Regions from separate parts of the Homo sapiens genome. Here region 1 is reported to be linked to region 2. The links are microRNA targets in miRTarBase. Many come from high-throughput screens and were not tested one by one. Region 2 holds a microRNA gene; the other region holds the end of a gene's coding sequence.

The links. Region 2 holds the annotated microRNA hsa-miR-577 (UAGAUAAAAUAUUGGUACCUG, at 2,017-2,037, shown strand). A microRNA usually pairs through its seed, bases 2 to 8, with sites in the 3' UTR of a target mRNA and lowers its output. Matches are read on the target gene's strand: a 7mer-m8 pairs with bases 2 to 8, a 7mer-A1 pairs with bases 2 to 7 and ends in A, and an 8mer does both.
Region 1: the mRNA of CNN3 is a reported target of hsa-miR-577. Seed matches in the 3' UTR shown: 7mer-m8 at 626-632.

What each region holds. Positions count from the first base shown.
Region 1 is chr1:94,895,196-94,898,293 of GRCh38, reverse strand. It overlaps CNN3 (calponin 3), which reads left to right. Exons shown (of 7, transcript NM_001839.5): 7 at 211-1,337. The coding sequence ends at 552. SLC44A3 (solute carrier family 44 member 3) reads right to left here. Exons shown (of 15, transcript NM_001114106.3): 15 at 3,048-3,098. Among named protein-coding and RNA genes, the nearest start is that of CNN3-DT, 30 kb to the left of the region's middle.
Region 2 is chr4:114,654,758-114,657,855 of GRCh38, forward strand. MIR577 (microRNA 577) reads left to right here and starts at 2,002; the gene lies at 2,002-2,097. All of the region lies in intron 2 of UGT8 (UDP glycosyltransferase 8), which reads left to right.

The DNA of each region.
Region 1 (3,098 bases), not on the chromosome of region 2:
AAGGTCTCACCTAGCTCAAAAGCCAATGAATATTGCTTCATGGAAGTGATTCGGTATCAGGATATTTTGGTTAAGCTAGCTTTACCCCTGAACCAAATGAAAGTTCATGTATTACTGTTCATATTCAATGTGAATTCTATAATTTATAAATTATTCACAAGAATAGATTCTAGCTGCTGTTTTAACTTTTATACTATGTTCTAATACCAGGCAGGGATGTTAGCACCAGGTACCAGAAGAGACATCTATGATCAGAAGCTAACATTACAGCCGGTGGACAACTCGACAATTTCCCTACAGATGGGTACCAACAAAGTTGCTTCCCAGAAAGGAATGAGTGTGTATGGGCTTGGGCGGCAAGTATATGATCCCAAATACTGTGCTGCTCCTACAGAACCTGTCATTCACAACGGAAGCCAAGGAACAGGAACAAATGGTTCGGAAATCAGTGATAGTGATTATCAGGCAGAATACCCTGATGAGTATCATGGCGAGTACCAGGATGACTACCCCAGAGATTACCAATATAGCGACCAAGGCATTGATTATTAGATCCACACAGAAGGAGCTCAGTATTTAGTCCTTTGTTTTTATTCAGTGAGAACCAAGCTAGCCTTGAGTAATTTTTATCTTGTCTTCCTAAAACACTATTAAGCTTATTGTACTTTTAAGAAAAATTGCCTTACGTACATTCCTTTTTCCTTTTTCTGCCTCTTCCCTCAATAGTTGCCTTTTAGTGCTGTAATAGTTAAATCCTACAGCATAATCAATAACTCGCATATGAAGTAAAAAGGAATACTGTGAAAGGGGAGTACTCTTGTACAGCCAGTTCTTTTATGCAAAAATCTATGCATTTTTACAATCTTATATTAAACTGGTATTTTCAAACAATAGGAAACTTTTTTTTTTTTTTTTTTTTTTTACAGTTTAGTGTATCTGGTTTCTACATGGAAGACTAAACTCATGCTTATTGCTAAATGTGGTCTTTGCCAACTAAATTTAAGATGCAGCATTTTAGAAATTTACATATCAATGTTTCTACAGTATTGTTTGCTAATTTTTAAATAAAGTCATGATCAGTGTGCATTTGTGATTATATGTGTACTCATTCTCTTACCTAGCGAACAAGATCTTTTCAGAGTGGTGTTTCTAAAAGAGCATGTACAAAAGTGGCCTGTGGACATTTAGGCCTGGGTGATGCATTTGCTCTTCCTGTTTGTGCCAATGTATCAATGTAGAGTTGCTCTGTTTTCTTCAACTGTATTTATTGCTGCATTTCTCAGCATAAACTTATCCCATTGTATTTTTTATAAATAAATATTTTTTTTGAACTTTCATATGAACCACAGGCTGATTATTTTCTGGCTAGCTTCTAGATAGGTAGGGTCAGATTTTTTTTTAAGTACCTTTTTCCTAGGTACTGTTACAAGGTACATTAACATTTTATTTACTTCACACAACACTGCACTCTATGCTTAAGGAGATTGAGGCTTAGGAAACCATTACACATAGTAAATGACAGAATTCTAATCATTTTCTGACCCTTGCTTATTTCACTGACTTGGCTGGCCCAGATTCATCTTAAATTCAACTTGGAATAATCTTAAAATCTTTAGGAATATTGACAGGAGGGGTGGGGAATTTTCCTATCTTAGGGTAAGTAAACATGAATAAGAAACATGCTAGGTCAGCCATAGGATGTGCTGCTTGGTAATAAGCCAGGGTTTATAGTGAAACATAAACCTTCAGTCCTGACAGAGGGAAGGACAAACAATAGCTAGGTGTCATAGTGACAAAAATGCAGTCACTAAAAGAAAATTAGTAACTCACACTTTCCGACATTGTCTCAGCCAAGCCATGTCTTCTAATAGGATTGGCTCTATTAGGTTTGGGGGCGAAAACCGTCTGTTTTTTGCTGAGAGATGAGGAGTATATACACATGGTTTGATGAGCCCACAAAAGTGAAGGCTATTTGCTCATCATTCCACAATGACTAGGTTTAATGCTTCTGGGAAACTGCTTGTAAAGGAAACTATTGGAGTCAACCTAATTCAATGGTGGCATTTAAGAAAAAAGTCATTGCATTTAAAGTAGACCTGAGTTCTAAGGCTTTCCTTGTCATCTTTGACTCTTCAAAGTTTAGGGAAGGGAAGCCTTATATCACACTACCTGCCCTGCCATTTAAGTCAGATTGATTCCCATGAGGCTGCCAATCAACATGTTAAAATGTTTCTATTTGGTTAGAGTTTTAAAAACGAAAAGCTCTTCCCCTCACTCCCATCTACATAAATCTCTGAGGTCCAGGCAGAAGTATTTTTAAAAATCTGTCTCCAGGTAATTTCTCAGGTGGGGCTGTGGTTGAAAACCACTTCTTCCAGAATGTCTGCTGTAAGAGGAGTGCTTGTGTATCAGGAGTTTGGATAAATTGTGTGTGCCATCACGGAATGTGATCTGGTGGAGAGACATAACAGAAAGTGGATTCACAGTCATATCAGAGAAGAGCATGGAGGAAAAGGACAGAAGAGAGGGCAAGTAATGCTGCTCAGAGGCATTGCAGAAGCATGATGCTATCAGAGCTGGGTTTTGAAGAATAAGTAGGAGTTTGCCATTAGCAAAGAGGAGGAAGAGTATTCAGAAAAAAAGGAAGAGCATGTGCACAGACTAAATCATTGGTTACACTCCTGCCTCTCCTGTACATGCCCAGTTCAGGTGGTAGTTCATGTTAGAGTAGACAGTTTTGGCTTTTATTGTCACCAAATCTAAGAATTGTACTTTGAAAAGTTAATCCATTTAGCATATTTCCAGGATTGGCTGAGTAGGGAAGTATCCTACTCTGTATAAAAGCAACTTTCCAAGCTGGGCATGGTGGCATGCCTGTAGTCCCAGCTGCTTGGGAGGCTGAGGCAGGAGGATCACTTGAGCCTAAGAGCTGGAGGCCGCAGTGAGCTATGATGGCACCTGTGCATAGACACTGTACTCCAACCTTGGGAACATAGTGAGATGCTGTCCCTTTAAAAAAAAAAATCCAGAGATTTCTGCTAACAAAATCCTTATCTTAAAAAGGTTTATTTATTAGTTGTGCACTTACAAACTTACCT
Region 2 (3,098 bases):
CTCACATAGGATTACTTCTTCTGTAATCAGTTGACCAGAGAAGTCACGAGTCAGCCAAAGCTTACCTGCCCAAGTTTATACAGTGTGGACGTAGCACCTCTTGATGGGGACTTTCTGAAAACACATGTGGGACTGGAAATACTAATTTAGCTGTTTATGGGAACATACAGTCTGCCACACAATATAATTCCTATGTCTTTTGCAATGGCTTTATAATTTTCAAGTATGACTGATAACTTATATTTCCCTACATTGTTTTTACAAAATAGACCACTTACCAATTCCCGGTACCTAGTTTTTTGTTTTTTGTTTTTTTTTTTGTAAAGTAATTTGCAGCTTATTATGTTATTTAGATGCTGAAATTGATGGAGGGAAGTTTAAATTTAAAAATAAAAATCGATTATCTAGATTTTTCCACAATAAACTTTTATTTATTTAGTTTGCATCATCCAGAATCCTGGGATATTTGTTTTTGTTTGTTTTGTGTGTTTTTTCTCTAAAACAGTTTATTTGGGAATAGCAAGGGTCTGCAATGCTGGATATGCATGCCATTGCAGACCATGGATGCATCTGTGAGGGGTTTGGAGTAAGGGGAAGCTTTTAGAGACAAAAAGAAGTCCACATAAGTTGTTTTGAAACAAAGATTATTGGTTACAGGGGCTTATTCTAGGTGGTGGTGTTTGTTACTTGGTGGTAATGCTTGTTGATAGTAAACCATGTTTCTCATGTGGAATTGTTAAATTGAAAGCTGTCTTTTTTTATTTAATTTTTCTTTTGTAATATAACAATCCCCAACTACATTATTTTTAAAACAATATTAAGTCTGCAGGAAATTTGCAAACTCAGTTCAAAGTTATTTTTTTTACCAGAACCATCTGACAATAAGATTTCTATATGATACCCTGTCACCCTCCAAAACATTGATATATATTTTGTGCACATGAGGGCATTTTTCTGCATAATCACAATACAAACCATAAAAATAAGGAAATTAACAATGATATATTACTACCATCTAAGTTTTACACCTCAATGAAGTTTTGTGAGAGCCACTAATAATGTCCTTAATAAGGAAAGGATCCAGTTCAGAATTATCAGTGGCCTTTATTTGCTATGTCTTTAGGCTCCTTCTTGAACACTTACTCAGTGTTTCTTAGATTCTCATTGTTTTGATGTTGTTGAAGGATATCGGCCTGTTGTATAGAATGTCCCTCAATTTGGGTTTATCATTTGTTCCTCATAATTGGATTCAGGTTTTGCATCCTTACAGGAATATCACAGAAGGGATGCTATATTCTGCATGTTGCATCTGATTAGGTGGTACGTGATTTTGACTTGCTTCATTATTGATGATGTCCACTTTAATCGTTTGATTAAGGTGTTACTTACAAGACTTCTTTGCTGTCACATTACTAATTTTACTTGGTAGTCAGAATTGGAAGCTATGTAAATATTTCTCATCAGTCTCTGTGTCTTTATGGCATAATACTGATTATCATGAAAAAAATTGAGTGTTTTCTTTTTGTTTTTGTTTTTTTTTCTGGAAAGAAAGGAGGCAGACAGATTAGCTAGCAAGACTGCCTTTCTTTTGTTTATGTAGGTCACATAATTTAGTAGCTAAGCTTGATTTTTGAAAGGAGACATTTCTTTAAAGTGCTCAATAATTTGTTTAAAGTTCTAGGGAAACGACAGTGTTATTTATCCTGTTAACTGAATGGCAAAATAAAGCAGTGTACTTGCTGTTTATCCTTTCAAAGACTTAGATTACTATTAGCTTTCTTGATTTATTAAAAGAAATAAGTATTGAGCACCTACTGCATCTTACACCTAGGAGAAGAAAAGTCTTGTGAATAAACTCACATGCTACAAGAAGTGTGGTAGGTGCCCTGTTGAAAGAACAGGTCTCACAGGGGAGAACAATAGAGGAGATACTTTGTTGTGATCTTGGTAAATAACTGTGACCTGAGGGGGAAGTTTCAGGCACCCAAGGCAGGCTGTATTTGGGGGAGTGAAGAGTAGATAAAATATTGGTACCTGATGAATCTGAGGCCAGGTTTCAATACTTTATCTGCTCTTCATTTCCCCATATCTACTTACTGTAGGTACGGCCTCATTAAAAAATATAAACTCTCTGAAGACAGAACATTTTGTTTATTTATTCTTTGATATGTCCCAAGTGTCAGATATGGTACATAGCAGCTGGTCATGGCTATCAAATAATCATTTATCAAATAGTGACCCAGAAATTAGGTGGGTTTCCAAGTCCATTAATCAAATTTCTTTTGTAACGTAAGAAAGATTTAGATATCATTTCCGTAGTGATTTTTTTTTTCTGGTGAGAGTTTCACCTCCGTTTATTATTTTTGTCCTTTTTTTCTATCTCGTGGTTACTTTCCATATCTCCTCAGTACCTTGCCATCATCATATCCTCGGGATGTCCCTGCTGCTTGTGTTCAGTTCCTTGAAGGTCTTAAGAACCTTGAAAATTTAACTTTTCAAAGTCAAATCAGGGTTTCAAATTTTGCTTACTTATTTTAATTGTAACTGTACTGGCAAAATTAATCAAGCTCACAATGAAGAAAAACCGATACTGCAGAATCTCAGTGGAAATGAATACACCCTTCTGGGTGCTTATTTCATTCTCCTGAACTTTCACTGTGTTGAAGGCATCTTTTGAGATTTTAAAAATAGAACCATTGCCTTGACATTGATCTCTCTATTGCTTCTGTAGCGTAATTGTAGTTTATACCCTTCTAGATGATCTGGGAAATCATTTGAGTTTTCTGAAAAACTGAAAACTAGATTTGATGCTGCATGTGAACATTTTTGGTACTACTTTTCATTTATGTATTTTAAACAACTTTATTCTGAAAAGTCCAAAACATAGTGAACAAATACAACTGAGAGAAAATATCTTGGTGCAGAATGACCTTTTTTTTTTTCCTTTTCTCAATGTGGATATCATTTCAGTCCATAATCTGTGTATTACTTATCAGATATCATGGCCAGGGAAGAGAACAGCATAATTTTTAGTTGACAAAGCACTTTTATATATTTAATCTCATTTAATCTCTGCAGTGTGCTTGTAAAGTATCGTA